4 linked regions of the Homo sapiens genome follow. The protein of the gene in region 1 interacts with the protein of each later gene in a pairwise test. Each region holds a gene or a part of one and is shown on either strand. Other genes may lie near its edges.

Evidence for each region. Proteins that work in one complex are often made in the same cells at the same time.
Region 2: the proteins of WBP11 (region 1) and RBM5 interact in a two-hybrid assay, tested with the Homo sapiens proteins (one large-scale study listed by BioGRID and IntAct).
Region 3: the proteins of WBP11 (region 1) and RSPH1 interact in a two-hybrid assay, tested with the Homo sapiens proteins (one large-scale study listed by BioGRID and IntAct).
Region 4: the proteins of WBP11 (region 1) and PRMT2 interact in a two-hybrid assay, tested with the Homo sapiens proteins (one large-scale study listed by BioGRID and IntAct).

Annotation. Positions count from the first base shown.
Region 1 is NC_000012.12:14,786,479-14,789,978, reverse strand, and holds part of WBP11 (WW domain-binding protein 11), read left to right. Parts: intron 1-845; coding exon 846-1,028; intron 1,029-2,480; coding exon 2,481-2,914; 3' UTR 2,915-3,500. UniProt on the Homo sapiens protein: Activates pre-mRNA splicing. May inhibit PP1 phosphatase activity.
Region 2 is NC_000003.12:50,109,419-50,112,918, reverse strand, and holds part of RBM5 (RNA-binding protein 5), read right to left. Parts: intron 3,317-3,500; coding exon 3,231-3,316; intron 2,541-3,230; coding exon 2,456-2,540; intron 2,241-2,455; coding exon 2,149-2,240; intron 1-2,148. UniProt on the Homo sapiens protein: Component of the spliceosome A complex. Binds to ssRNA containing the consensus sequence 5'-AGGUAA-3'. Regulates alternative splicing of a number of mRNAs.
Region 3 is NC_000021.9:42,489,725-42,493,224, forward strand, and holds part of RSPH1 (radial spoke head 1 homolog), read right to left. Parts: intron 3,356-3,500; coding exon 3,242-3,355; intron 3,140-3,241; coding exon 3,034-3,139; intron 1-3,033.
Region 4 is NC_000021.9:46,659,674-46,662,648, reverse strand, and holds part of PRMT2 (protein arginine N-methyltransferase 2), read right to left. Parts: exon of another isoform or gene 1,817-2,975; coding exon 1,687-1,816; exon of another isoform or gene 1,379-1,686; intron 850-1,378; coding exon 713-849; intron 1-712. UniProt on the Homo sapiens protein: Arginine methyltransferase that methylates the guanidino nitrogens of arginyl residues in proteins such as STAT3, FBL, histone H4. Acts as a coactivator (with NCOA2) of the androgen receptor (AR)-mediated transactivation.

The sequences.
Region 1 (3,500 bases):
AAAGTATAAAAAGATTATTTATGAAATGAAGCAACAGAGAACTTTTCAGCTATTTGTGATTTTAGTCCTTCATCCTATTGTCAGCCTACTAAGTTTTCTTCAGTTGAGCTAATCATTTTCCGATTGGTGCAAAGCAAAGTTACCTATTTTATGTCATTCTTAGTGGTCTTTGTCTATATATTCATGAGTTTCAAGGGGTCCTTAAAGCATTGTGTTTTATATTCCATTTTCAGCTTATACTGGAACCATTTAAGAATTCTTATCACCTTTGTATATTTCCAACATTGCGGAGCTGTGATTGAATATGCTTTTTGTCAGTGTTGGGAAATAAAGTGAAAAGATCCACAACAAATCCAGTACCATTTTTCTGGTGCTCAGATATATTTTTTTTTTTAAGACGGAGTCTTGTTCTGTCACCCAGGCTGGAGTGCAATGGCGCAATCTCAGCTCACTACAAGCTCCGCCTCCCGGGTTCACACCATTCTCCTGCCTCAGCCTCCCAAGTAGCGGGGATTACAGGTGTCTGCCACCATGCCCGGCTAATTTTTATGTATTTTTAGTAGAGATGGGGTTTCACCATCTTGGCCAGGATGGTCTTGAACTCCTGACCTTGTGATCCACCCACTTCAGCCTCCCAAAGTGCTGGGATTACAGGCATGAGCCACCATGCCCGGCTGTACTCAGATATTTATTGAATGAATTCTGTTTCCATGTATGTTTCATTAACTTCTTGAAGTTAATCTGATTTCAGGTTAAAGTCAAACCATATTTGAGTTACTTTTAAGCCATAATTATTACTTAGTGTACATTTGTGTGACATTAATTTATCATTTTTCTCTTTTCAGGAGCTCCTCCATTCCTGAGACCACCTGGAATGCCAGGACTCCGAGGGCCCTTACCCCGACTTTTACCTCCAGGACCACCACCAGGCCGACCCCCTGGCCCTCCCCCAGGTCCACCTCCAGGTCTGCCTCCTGGTCCCCCTCCTCGTGGACCCCCACCAAGGCTACCTCCCCCTGCACCTCCAGGTGATGCTTTCAATTTCTATAATAAAAACTTAGCCTGCTGTTTATTTAATTTGCTCTAAGACATATGGTCACATTTCAGTATTCTGAAATCTGAGGTCATCTTACAGTCAGTGGTGGTTTTTAAGTTGCCGTTGACCTGGCTTGAAGTACAGTTCTTCCAGTGGGTATTTGCACTTGGTTCACTTGAGGAACTTGTAGCCAGAGAACATGGGATTAAATTCTCTATTTGATAATTTTTTGGTTTTAGTTGTAGTTACGAAGCCGTTTCATGCATCTGCATGAGTACCAACTTAAAGTTTAAAATTAGAGTGTTTTTTTCCCTTACCTCTACCTAATGTCAAGGTTAGACATGCAGATTTTCTTGTGGGCTTGTTTTATGTGGTAGGTATATTTCTAGTTTACAACACTGAAATGTCCCAGTTTCATGTGAATATCTGCTTTTCAGTGCCCCAGCTGGGGCTTTTTTTCCTCTCTCTCTCTCAGTGGTACACAGAATAATTATGAGTTTGTAATCAATAGGATCTTAGATTTGATAAAATGTACTTAATATTTCATTTAAAAGTGGTATTTGAAGAACTGAAATCTGCAGTTCTTGGTATATGAATATTGTGTATGTCTGAACTGTCCATAGGACATGAGTTCTTTTCCAGTAATGATGACAGATTGTGATTAGTTGCATTCTCTTACTCCATGTGCATTGTTTTTTTCTTTGAGACGGAGTTTCATTCTTCTTGCCCAGGCTGGAGTGCAATGGCGCGATCTGAGCTCACTGCAACCTCCGCCTCCTGGGTTCAAGCAATTCTCCTGCCTCAGCCTCCCAAGTAGCTGGGATTACAGGCGTGCACCACCACGCCCAGCTAATTTTGTATTTTTAGTAGAGACAGGGTTTCATCATGTTGGTCATCAGGCTGGTCTCGAGCTCCTGACCTCAAATGATCCACCCGCCTCAGCCTCCCAAAGTGCTGGGATTACAAGTGTGAGCCACCATGCTCGGCCTCCGTATGCATTTGATGACCAGGGTTAAAATTTTATTTCCTGCCCATTGACCTTTTTGTGCAGGGGAAATGGTATGGAATATAATGCATGGGGATCAGTCTCCTGACCTTGTCCTTACTAATACCTGCACTATGCAGCTGGAATAGAACCTTGGGATGTGAGATTTGAGATAGTAATTTGAAACCAGTTGATGTCCCTTTATATTTTAAAGTAGGATGTTATTTAGAGAAGAAGAGAACATAATACTGTAAGTACAGGAATATAGGCTGAAGGTAAATACTGTTTTATAATAAAATATTCCTGAGTTTCAAATAGCAACCAATATGAATTCAGCTTATTTTCTGTAAGTTGTTATCCATTTATTTAAAAATTGGCAACCAATATTTAAATGTCCTTAATAGTAGTTAAATTTTATTAGTTCTTACAGTATTCATCTTGCCTATTTTATTCATTTAGGTATTCCTCCACCTCGTCCTGGCATGATGCGCCCACCTTTGGTGCCTCCCCTTGGACCTGCCCCCCCTGGGCTGTTCCCACCAGCTCCCTTGCCAAACCCTGGGGTTTTAAGTGCCCCACCCAACTTGATTCAGCGACCCAAGGCGGATGATACAAGTGCAGCCACCATTGAGAAGAAAGCCACAGCAACCATCAGTGCCAAGCCACAGATCACTAATCCCAAGGCAGAGATTACTCGATTTGTGCCCACTGCACTGAGAGTACGTCGGGAGAATAAAGGGGCTACTGCTGCTCCCCAAAGAAAGTCAGAGGATGATTCTGCTGTGCCTCTTGCCAAAGCAGCACCCAAATCTGGTCCTTCTGTTCCTGTCTCAGTACAAACTAAGGATGATGTCTATGAGGCTTTCATGAAAGAGATGGAAGGGCTACTGTGACAGCTTTTGATGCCAGAAAAGGCTTCTGTTCACAACAGTGGCCCATGGAGAAAGAGGCTCTTATTAAACTTAGATGAAAGAGCTGCTTCCATTGTCAGGGTATTTTCTAATTTCAGTTCAAGGAATATCCTAAAATTTAGCCTTGTTCAGAATTTACTGCACATAAAAAAGGGTATTTCATCCAGAATAGATCAGTTATTGAAGCAGTGCTGCTAACATCCATTCCCTTTCATACCACCATTTTCACCCTGTTTCTTCCCCTCCTCCAGTTCTTTGGAAATTTGTGATCGGGGGATCTTAGTTGCTTATTTGTTTTGACTCTTGTGTGCTGTGGGCACTGGAGTAGAGATTTCTGGAGAAAAAAAAACAGTTTATTTCATCTTGCCTTTTGTGTTTGAGTTATTTTTAATATTTTCCTGTAAATATTTTGTAATATTTTACTTGTAATGAAATGGATCACAATGTCATTTCCTAATACAAGGCAGGATATGTGGGAAGAATATGTACAATTATTTGATTAAAATTATTTCCCACTGACCTAAACTTTCAGTGATTTGTGGGAAAAATAAATAAATGTTCTACACCA
Region 2 (3,500 bases), on another chromosome or scaffold:
ATCATGCCACTGCACTCCAGTCTGGGCAACAGAGTAAGACTCCATCTCAAAAAAAATGATAATAAAAATTTAAAAAGTCTAGTTCCCATTAATTTAATCCCTGGGCCTACCTAGAGGGCACCCAAAGAGCAATTTGTCTCACTCTGTTCCACAGACTATTTACATAAACCAGGCAGCCAGAACAGGTGGGCGTGTCATGGAGTTCAGACATCTGCCATGACAACAGCTCATCATTGGGCCCATCCACATAGAATCCATTGGATACCAGGCAACCACACACAGGGTGTAAACACTAGCACAGAGCTGGAAGGAGGTGTTGGTGAAGGGACCCAAGCTCAGCAGGAATTGCAACAGAGGAGAGGTGTCACATATCCTCTCCTCTATTTTCCAGTCGCTCACTCTATCTGCTCAACAGGGACCCAGGAGACAGTGTCTGTCTCTTCTGGGTAAGGTGGCGTGGCTAACAGACACAACTTTTTTTTTTTTTTTTTTTTTTTTTTTTTTAGACAGAGTCTCGCTCCGTCACCCAGGCTGGAGTGCAGTGGCGCGACATTCGCTTACTGCCAGCTCCACCTCCCGGGTTCACGCCATTCTCCTGCCTCAGCCTCCCGAGTAGCTGGGACTACAGGCATTCGACACCACGCTTGGCTAATTTTTTTGTATTTTTTTTTTTTTTTTAGTAGAGACGGGGTTTCACTGTGTTAGCCAGGATGGTCTCAATCTCCTGACCTAGTGATCCTCCCATCTTGGCCTCCCAAAGTGCTGGGATTACAGGCGTGAGCCACTGCGCCCAGCCTACAGACACAACTTCTAAGGCCACCAAAGAGAACTGACGGGAAAAAAAAAAAAAAAAAAAAAGAACTGACAGGGAAATAAATGGCCAGGCTTCACAAATGAGAGAAGTGGATGGAAGAGGTATGCAGAGGCTTGGCCTGCTTAGGCACGTCACACACAGCTTCACACTTCAATCTCTCAGAAACCACAACCTATCAATGCCAAGTTCCTGTTAAAAATACTTATTACTGTTCTATATATACAGCTCCCGGTCATAAATAGAGTTATTTATGGGGTGTTAAAGTTGTTTTTCCCTTTTAAAAGTTATATATGCCACCAAAAATAAAACATCACTCCATACATCTGCTAAATTCTACCCTCAAGAATACACAGGGAGGCAAAGTAAAGGATGCTGGACACAAAAGGTAATCTATTGTCTGACTCCACTTATATGAAATGTCAAGAACAGAGGGCTGGGCACAGTGGCTCATGCCTGTAATCCTGGCACTTTGGAGGCTGAGGCGGGTGGATCACTTAAGGTCAGGAGTTCGAGACCAGCCTGGCAAACAAGGTGAAACCCTGTCTCGACTACAAAAATTAGCTGGGTGTGGTGGGCGCCTGTAATCCCAGCTACCAGCTACTCAGCAGGCTGAGGCAGGAGCATTGCTTGAACCCAGGAGGTGGAGGCTGCAGTGAGCCAAGATCGTGCCACAAAAAAAATAAAAAAAGCAAATCCATAGAGACAGAGAGTAGATTAGTAGTTACTGGAGGAGAGTACAGAATGGGGAGTGACTGTTTAACAGGTACAGGGTTTCTTCTTCGAGTGATGAAAATGTTCTGAGATTAGACAGTGGTGACAGTTACACAACACTGTGAATATATTAAAAGCCACTGATTTGTACACTCTAAAAGGTTAAACAATAGGGAGAAAAGTACAATTTAAAATTTCTAGCTAGGTCTTTCCATAAATTGTAACTTGACAAAATAATCTATGGCAACAGAAATCAAAATAGTGGTTATTGAAGACATAGGTTACTGACCAGCAATGGGCATGAGGATTAGGTGGGCTGGGAATAAGTGGTGGTGTATATACACATGTAATATACAAATGTATAGACATGTATAAACATTCAAAGAATTGCACATTTCTGTTTTGTGTATTTTTTTGTGTGTATATTATACCTCAAAACATTTTTTAACCCTACAATTAAAACTTACAATCTCCATATAAAAATTACATTTTGGTGGCTTTGAAGAAGTTAAAACTAATCTGAGTCATATATTCTTTTGCAGGAAATATTTCATTTTATGCCTCATAAATGCACTAAGCGAAACTACTTCTAGTGAAATTGAGGAGGAAAGCAGCACATTTACTTGCGAGTTGGGGTCATAATAGAGCCCTGTTGTCGGATCATAGTAATATCCTGAAGATTCATCATACTGGTAAGTGGACGTGTCAGGTACTGCTGCAAAAACAAAATCCAGCATACAGTCATTCCAGGTAAGAAATTGGCTTTATTTCAAATTCTAAGCCAGTGAGATGCAGCAGGCCTAATGTTTCTTCTCTGTCTCACATCCCCAAGTGTCCCTCTGACACCCGCAAAGGGAGAAGAACTCTCATTAAACAAAGACAACAACTAAGACCTTCCAACTGTCAACAGCCCCATGAGGTTTGGCTTACCATATTTGGTACCAGGAACTACACCAGTAGGGGAAGCGGCTGGGGCCTGTGTACTTGTGCTAGTGCTAGGCTGTGCTTCCTCAGTCTGGAAAGAACAGCAGCTTCAATATAATTTCAACTGTAAAGCCTTTTAAGAGAGCTAAATCACTGCAATCATCCAGGAGGAAGGGCTCCCCTGACAGACACACTGTAGCAATAATCTAAGGCAATCCCTCAGCAAAACACATGTTGACAACTTTTTTGCTTTCTTTTTCAAGAGGAGTCTTGCTCTGTTGCCCAAACTGGACTGCAGTGGCGCAATCTTGGCTCACTGCAACCTCCGTCTCCGGGGTTCAAGCAATTCTCCTGCCTCAGCCTCCCGAGTAGCTGGGATTACAGGCATGTGCCACCACGCCCGGCTAATTTTTGTATTTTTAGTAGAGACGGGGTTTCACCGTGTTAGCCAGGATGGTCTTGATCTCCTAACCTCGTGATCCACCCGCCTCGGCCTCCCAAAGTGCTGGGATTACAGGCGCGAGCCACCACACCCGGCCCCGGCGACAACTTTCTAAAGGTCAAGCATGCATAAAGTGTAAATACACAGTTGAAATTTTATATTTAAAATATACATGCACATATATATCATAAAATTAATATTTTAAAACAACAGAAAGAAATAAGGTTGAAGTGTGTATTACTCAATCCTGGCTCATACAACAGGAAAGGGTAATACTTGTATAGCAAAACAAAATTTCCCCATCAGCCACGAGTTTTGTATATAGGACAACAGGATTACCGGAGAGCCAGGTGGATTGGAGGTTTGATTATACAGCTGAGGACTCTGGGACACTACAGCCGCTGAGGTGGTGGTCACTGCTGTGCCTGATGATAAACACAAGTGTTAGGGAAAGCCAAGGCACTGAACGCCAACCCAAACATCTTTATTTGTAATGCCCAATCTAGCCTTCTTCTGTCATTGTATATGTCAGTTCTTCATAAGCTAACTTCCACTAAGTACCCTGGAATCTGTGACATTTTCATTTTCTTATAATTCTACTAGATGTGA
Region 3 (3,500 bases), on another chromosome or scaffold:
GATGCAGAACCTGAAAAGCAGAGAGACTGCATGCATTCCCCAAGGTCCCACAGCTGGTGGGTAGCAAGACTGAAATGAAAATTGGAGTCTGTCTAACACCATGCTCTCTTCTCCACAAGCATCCCAACAGTCAAGTGCTCATTTTTTCCAGCTCCTGCCATTCGGGGGCTTCCAAAAAACCCAGGTTCAAGTTATCATGTCATTCTTCTTTCTCCACAATGTCATTCTTAAACTTCTTTGTTTTGATGAGTTCTGTTTGACAGGCAACAAGGCCAGCAGGGAATAGGGATGCTCTTTCTCCCCCTTAACCTCAGAGTCCTCAGTTGGCCCTACACCCCCAACCCTCAGCATCAGTACATGGGGTCTAGGCCTCCCCCACATCTGGCACCCACCCTCCCCTCCATCTCATCCCCCACTACCCCTAAAAACCTCGGCCTTCCTGCCTGTATCCAAGTCACCCGCCACCCAGGACCGTCTCCCCACTCCTCTCCTGCAGCACTATAGCCTCTGCTGGCTCCTGGACTCCCTAATTGGACTTGTGTGACCATCTGGGAGACAGGTAGGGTACTGGACTTTATGCCACAGGGTCCTGACGTTGAACACACTGCCCTGCACAAAACCATTCTGGCCCATTGTGATGGCAGCCAGCCAAGATACACTGTTATGAATAACTCAGCCATACATTAACTGAGATTTTGTGATTGGAAGAGTATTGGCTTACTATGTTATAATTAATATTATAACTTCTGACCTCAGTTTCCATTGCTGCCTTCATGAAGTAAGACACTTATTTAAGCTTTTGTCAGAGAAGAAATCTCTGGGTAGTGGCTAAATCTTGCACCCTTTAAGATACAAAGCCATCTGGAGAATCAAAAATCCCAACTGTTACCAGAAGAGCTTTATATGTTAGTGTGGCATAATAAGAAATATTGGTCTTTATTCATGGTTCCCAGCACAGAGCTCCTAAAACCCTTGACATTTCCTGACTGATAGAAATGTTTTTGTTATTCAAAATGAGACTCTTTTGACCACACCTGAACTTATGCAAATGAGGCCCAGGATGGCCTCAAGATGGGACTGAACACCAGAAAGACCAAGTGATAAGAAGGATAGAACCTCCAGCCCCACCCACCAACTTTTGGTAAAGAAGAAGGAAGGGGCCAGAGATTAAGCTCTGTAAAAACTCTTGAGCAAGATTTGTTGAGCTTCTGGGGTGATAAACATATCATGTGCCAGGAGGGTGGTGCACTCCACCTCCACAAGGACAGAAGCTCCTGTGCTTGGGAACCTTCCAGGCCTTGCCCTCTGTACCTCTGAATCTGGCTGTTCATCCATATTCTTTATAATATCCTTTACAGTAAACATGAGTAAAGTGCTTTCCTGAGTCCTATGAGCCGCTATGGCACATTATCAAACCTGAGTAGGGTGTTGTAGGAACCCCCAATTTGTAGCCGAGTCAGGTAGAACTGTGGGTACCCTCCGGATCCACAACTTGAGGTTGACATCTGAAGTGGGGCAGTCTTGGAAACTGAGCCCTTAACCTGTGGGGTCTGTGCTAACTCTGGGTGGTGTCAGAATGGAGTTGCATCATTGGAAACTCAGTTGGTGTTCACAGAAGACTGGAGAAGTACATAGCATGGAAAATCCATGCATTTGGTGTCAGAGAAACAGTTACCCATTTTTAACCTTCATATTCAAAATTCCTTAAATCCCTTATCCTAAATATCTTCGTGTGTGTGTGTGTTGTTCAAATTGTATCAACATCTACACTAAAATCAAAAGTGACAAGAATGAGATTAGGTGCATAAGGATTTGGAAAGAATTAAATTAAGCCCCAAATTAAATTGTTTAAAGTTGATTTAAAAAGCAGATGGTGCTTCTTATAGAGCAAGCCTTCTGGGATTTATGAAACAAAACAAAACAATTTCTATCTAACAGGGATGGTATTAAAACCCTCCATCTTGGTCTCAGAATTGGACAGAATCATCACTGACATCTATTAAAATAAGAACCACCTACTGGTTCTTATTTTATCTAGGAGCAAAGCAAGCAACTATAGCTCGCACTTTGTAAGAATATGTCCTCCTCACTAAGAAGTGATGCTGTCACAAGTGGTACATCACAGTCCTAGCCCCAGTTACTGAGTGCTCACTATGGATCAGGCAAGGTTGCAGGTGTCTCCCTGTGTTTATCCATTGAATCTTCATGCTACAGATGAGAAACTGAGGCAAGGAGATGTGAAGTCACCTATGCAAGCTCACACCTATTGTCACCAGAGTCCAAGGTTAGGGTCACAGATCTTTTTGGAAATCTGAAGAAAACTAGACAATTTCTTTCTTCCTAGGGAAAAAACAAAAAGCCCAGAACACAGAATTTTATATACACTTTCTGAAGACTCACAACACGCTCCCTGCCGGTCCCCCTGCCCAGGTTTGGGATATCACTAATGTGGTCACACCAGGTGACAACGGCACAAGGGGCGGCAGGGAGGTTCTTGGAAATAAAGGAAAAAGAATCCTCCTCAAACATAACATTGGCCTGTAAGGACTTATGGCACAGGTAGGAAAAGTCAGTTTAACAAGGCAGGAAGACTCCCAGACAGGAAGCCCTGATGTAAGGAAACACTCGATCTGAAGAAATAACACATCCGTCAGATGGCGGGGTTGGTCAGAAATGGAAAATGCAAAGACAGGTTCAGGAAGATGAATGCCGCAGAGCAGCTGAAGCCGTGGGTCCACCAGCTGCGAGGCCTGCGTCCACTCAGGAGCCTCCCTTTTGTCTGCTCCCAGGACATGGACATGCTGGCCACAGGGACAGATTTCCCACTACAGATTCATTAGTGAGTTAATTAATTACAAGGCTTTCCTATTTCTGCATCAACACTGTGAATATAGTAACACGATCTGTGTTCGTTGAATGAGTAACTGGAGAACTTTAAGCTTTCTCATACATGTCAGTATTCACAGACAAGTTCAGTCATAAAGAAAGAAAAACTTCTGTAACACGAAAATCTGCTTAGTGATAACATTTTACCTTCATATCTGGATCCATCTGGATATATAAAAGTGCCTTGACCGTGCTTTTTATTTCTAACATATTCTCCGATATATCGAGCACCATTTTTAAATTTGTAGATCCCCTGAAACACATTGATTATATCATTCATATCATTGCTGAATGTAGCATTTGCTAACAGAGTATTAAATAGAGAAAACCATCCAGTCAAGTCAACGGTTCTGACCTGGCCATGTCTTTTACCGAATTCGTAGCTCCCTTCGTAGGTGTCCCCGTTGGGTAGCCGTGCCCTCCCACGTCCGTGCCTTTCGCCTGCCTCATTCCGACCCCCCTCATATTCCTGGGTAATGAAAATTGACACAATTACAGCTACCATTCATTAAGCGCTAACCAGGTGCTAAGCATTTTGTAAATATCATACCCTTGAGTCATCCCACTATGCTAAACCCCCGGCACTATACTCAATTGTCCCACCTTTCCCACCT
Region 4 (2,975 bases), on another chromosome or scaffold:
AGCCTGTGCCCCAGGTCACTGCCCCCTCCACGCCCCCAGACTCGGGGATGGGTATAACTGGCCTCCAAGCTGCCCACCTCCACCCGGTGATGGCACTGGAGGGGCCACCACAGGACTCTTGTGATGGGGACCACATGCCAGGCCAGGCCATCAACCCCGCACCTCTGCGACCTCCCTGGAGCCGGGGTCCCCTCGCGGGGCCACCACGCTGGGAAGTCAGCGGGGCAGGTGCCAGAGCGGGGTAGCCAACCCCACCCAAAGGGAAGGCCTGCAGGGCCCTGAAGGCAGCTCCACTGCCACACATGCCCAGGGTGCTGGCGGGGAAATGTGTCCCAAAAAACAGGCACCTCCAAAAACGTCAGGTGAACCCCGACGCCCCGTGGAGGCGCTTTGGGTCAGACCATGAAGAGCTGTGGTGCTCCTCGCGGGGTGGAAGACAGGGAGCTCCTCCCGTTGGGGCTGTTGTCGGAGGGACGCCCAGGCTGGGCCCAGAGTGGTGGCGAGACCCGGAAGGGGGCACACAGGCTGCGGTGTCTACACCACCCGTGCCCCCATGCGCGCCGCCCCCACCCCACTGCCCGCGCCCCCACGTGCCCCACCCCCCCACGACCGCCACGCCGCGTCCCACCCCCTCCTGCGCGCCCCATCCCCGCACCCCGCCTACTCCCCTGCCCCCCACCCCGCACCCCGTGCCCGCGCCCCGCACACTCACGGGTGGAAGGGCCCGGTGCTGAGCACCTGCGGCGGCTGCCCCTCCTGCAGGCTCTGGAAGTGGACGCTAAACCAGGCCGTGAAGCCGTGCAGGGTCCCCGCCTTCCTGATGTCGAAGCGCAGCTCGCCCCTCAGGGTCTGGGTCAAGCAGATGACAAGGCACGCGTGGGCACCGCGTGGCACCGCAGGGCCCGGGTTGGGGCGGCCCCCTCCACGCGCCCCGCGCAGACGCTGAATGCGTCAGGAACCGTAGAAAAGCCCCCCAGCCTGGGGAAACCACCCCCAAAACCCGCATCGTGAGTTCAGAGGCTTCAGTCAGAAACGTTTCAAGCATCTGAGCTTCTTGCGCCCAATTTTCTACCCCAGATTCTGCGGAATCTTTTCGGCGCTCAGCTCTTCCAGTTAAGGAGTTGGAGAGCTCCAGGCTGGGCCTTTCCACAGCAGAACGAACTAAAAACCAAAGCGCGCCGGCGCCACCGCGCCCGCCCCATCTCCAGACGCGGCGCCAGCTGGGGCGCCAGGCAGGGCGGGGGCGCGGGGAAACCGCCCAGAGCCCACGAGCGCCACCGCGCGGCCACAGACAGGGATTCACGGAGGGAATTCTAACGATTCTGTCATGAAGAGTGGCTTAAAATACTTGAAAAAAACTGTAATGCAAATACCATAATGAAACGAAATATAATTTATTTGATTTTGAAGATGCTGAGAATATTAAACATAAATCTAAAATGAAGACGCTGGAGACATAAAATGGTGTACAATATGAAAGAATCAAAATAGAACGTAAAAAAGAAAAAAGACTGGAAAAAATCAGTAGCAAACGTTTTATAAATTCACTTATTTGCATAATAAAATAATTAGTTATTCACTCACACCCCCAGCACTCACTGAAGGTTTTTGATAAGCCAGGCTCTGGTCTGAGTGTTTCGTGGTCACTGATTATCGAATGTAAGGAGCAATTCATCTTTTTCTCACCTCTAGATCAGAAATTTGCACGGTTCTCATGTCCAACTGCAATATAGTGCACGGTTCAGAGAGACAGTCTTCTGGTTTCAAAATGTGGTTATACTTGGGCTTTGAAAAAAACTCCTTAACTGCTAAAGATCTAGGGGAAAAGGTCAAAGCGACTGTTGAGAGTCATTGCAAACATCTTAGGCTTCAAAACACACACGTGGGACCGCGGTGAGTGCTCTCCCTTCTGTGTCACCAGGATGCTAAGCCACTATCTGGGGCCCTGGAACCCCAGAGCAGCCCTCAGGCCTCCACAGGCCCTGGGTGCCTCCCGCTCTGAGAAGACCCAGACTCTACCCAGGCATCCAGAGACTTCCTGAGCCTGACCTGGAGGCATTAAGGAGCCTGCCAGTCACTGGGCGCTTCCCTGTGAGGTCTCATTCATGGGATCTGAGCACACGGAAACCAACGCTCACCCCTCATAACCCAGAGGACAAGGGGAGTTGCAGCGTGTCTTGCCTAGTTTTAGAATGTATTTGATTTCAAAATCTTTTGTGGATCTTCTATTAACAGTAAATGAACGCGGTATTCCTGCTGTAGGTTACTCTATAATAAACGAAAGGAACTAGAAGGGCTGAGGTGGCCTGAGTGAGTCTGAGTTTCAGGAGAAATACTTGCTCTGTTGCTACACAAATTCAACACAGAAACAGACACTAGACGCCGCATGGCCCCTGCATGTCACCGTTTGCCAACCCCCATCACTGGCTGCACTAGGCTTGTAAGTCACCGATTATTTACCACAGAAATGTTGTAAAAAATAAGCAAAGCAGTAACTTCTGAAATAGCAAATAAAAGTGAATGTTTTAATAAAGATTCCACTATATTTACACATTTATTTTTCTGATAAAAAATTACAAATTTAAAAATTGGAAACTATGGACAAGTATAAAGAAAAGCTTAAATTCCCCATATGCCTGTCTTAGCATTGTGATATACTTATTTTTATCCCCCAGACATATTTATATAAATTTATTTATGCAAGCAAACATCCATTCTGTATACACGGTTTATTCTGCCAAGCTTTACTGTCTCTTAAACCCTTTCTAAATATCATTACATATCCCTAAAAACCTATGGTTTCTTTTTTAACAGACACACAGCAGTGCTCCACCAGATGGATATACAGCAATTCAATCACGTTCCTCTGGACGGCCACTGGCTTCCAGTGCCGGGAGGAACACTCAGGTGGGAGGCTCTGGCAGTGACTGGGGTGGGCAGCCTGATGCCAACCTCTAAGGCCCTGGCAGCCACAC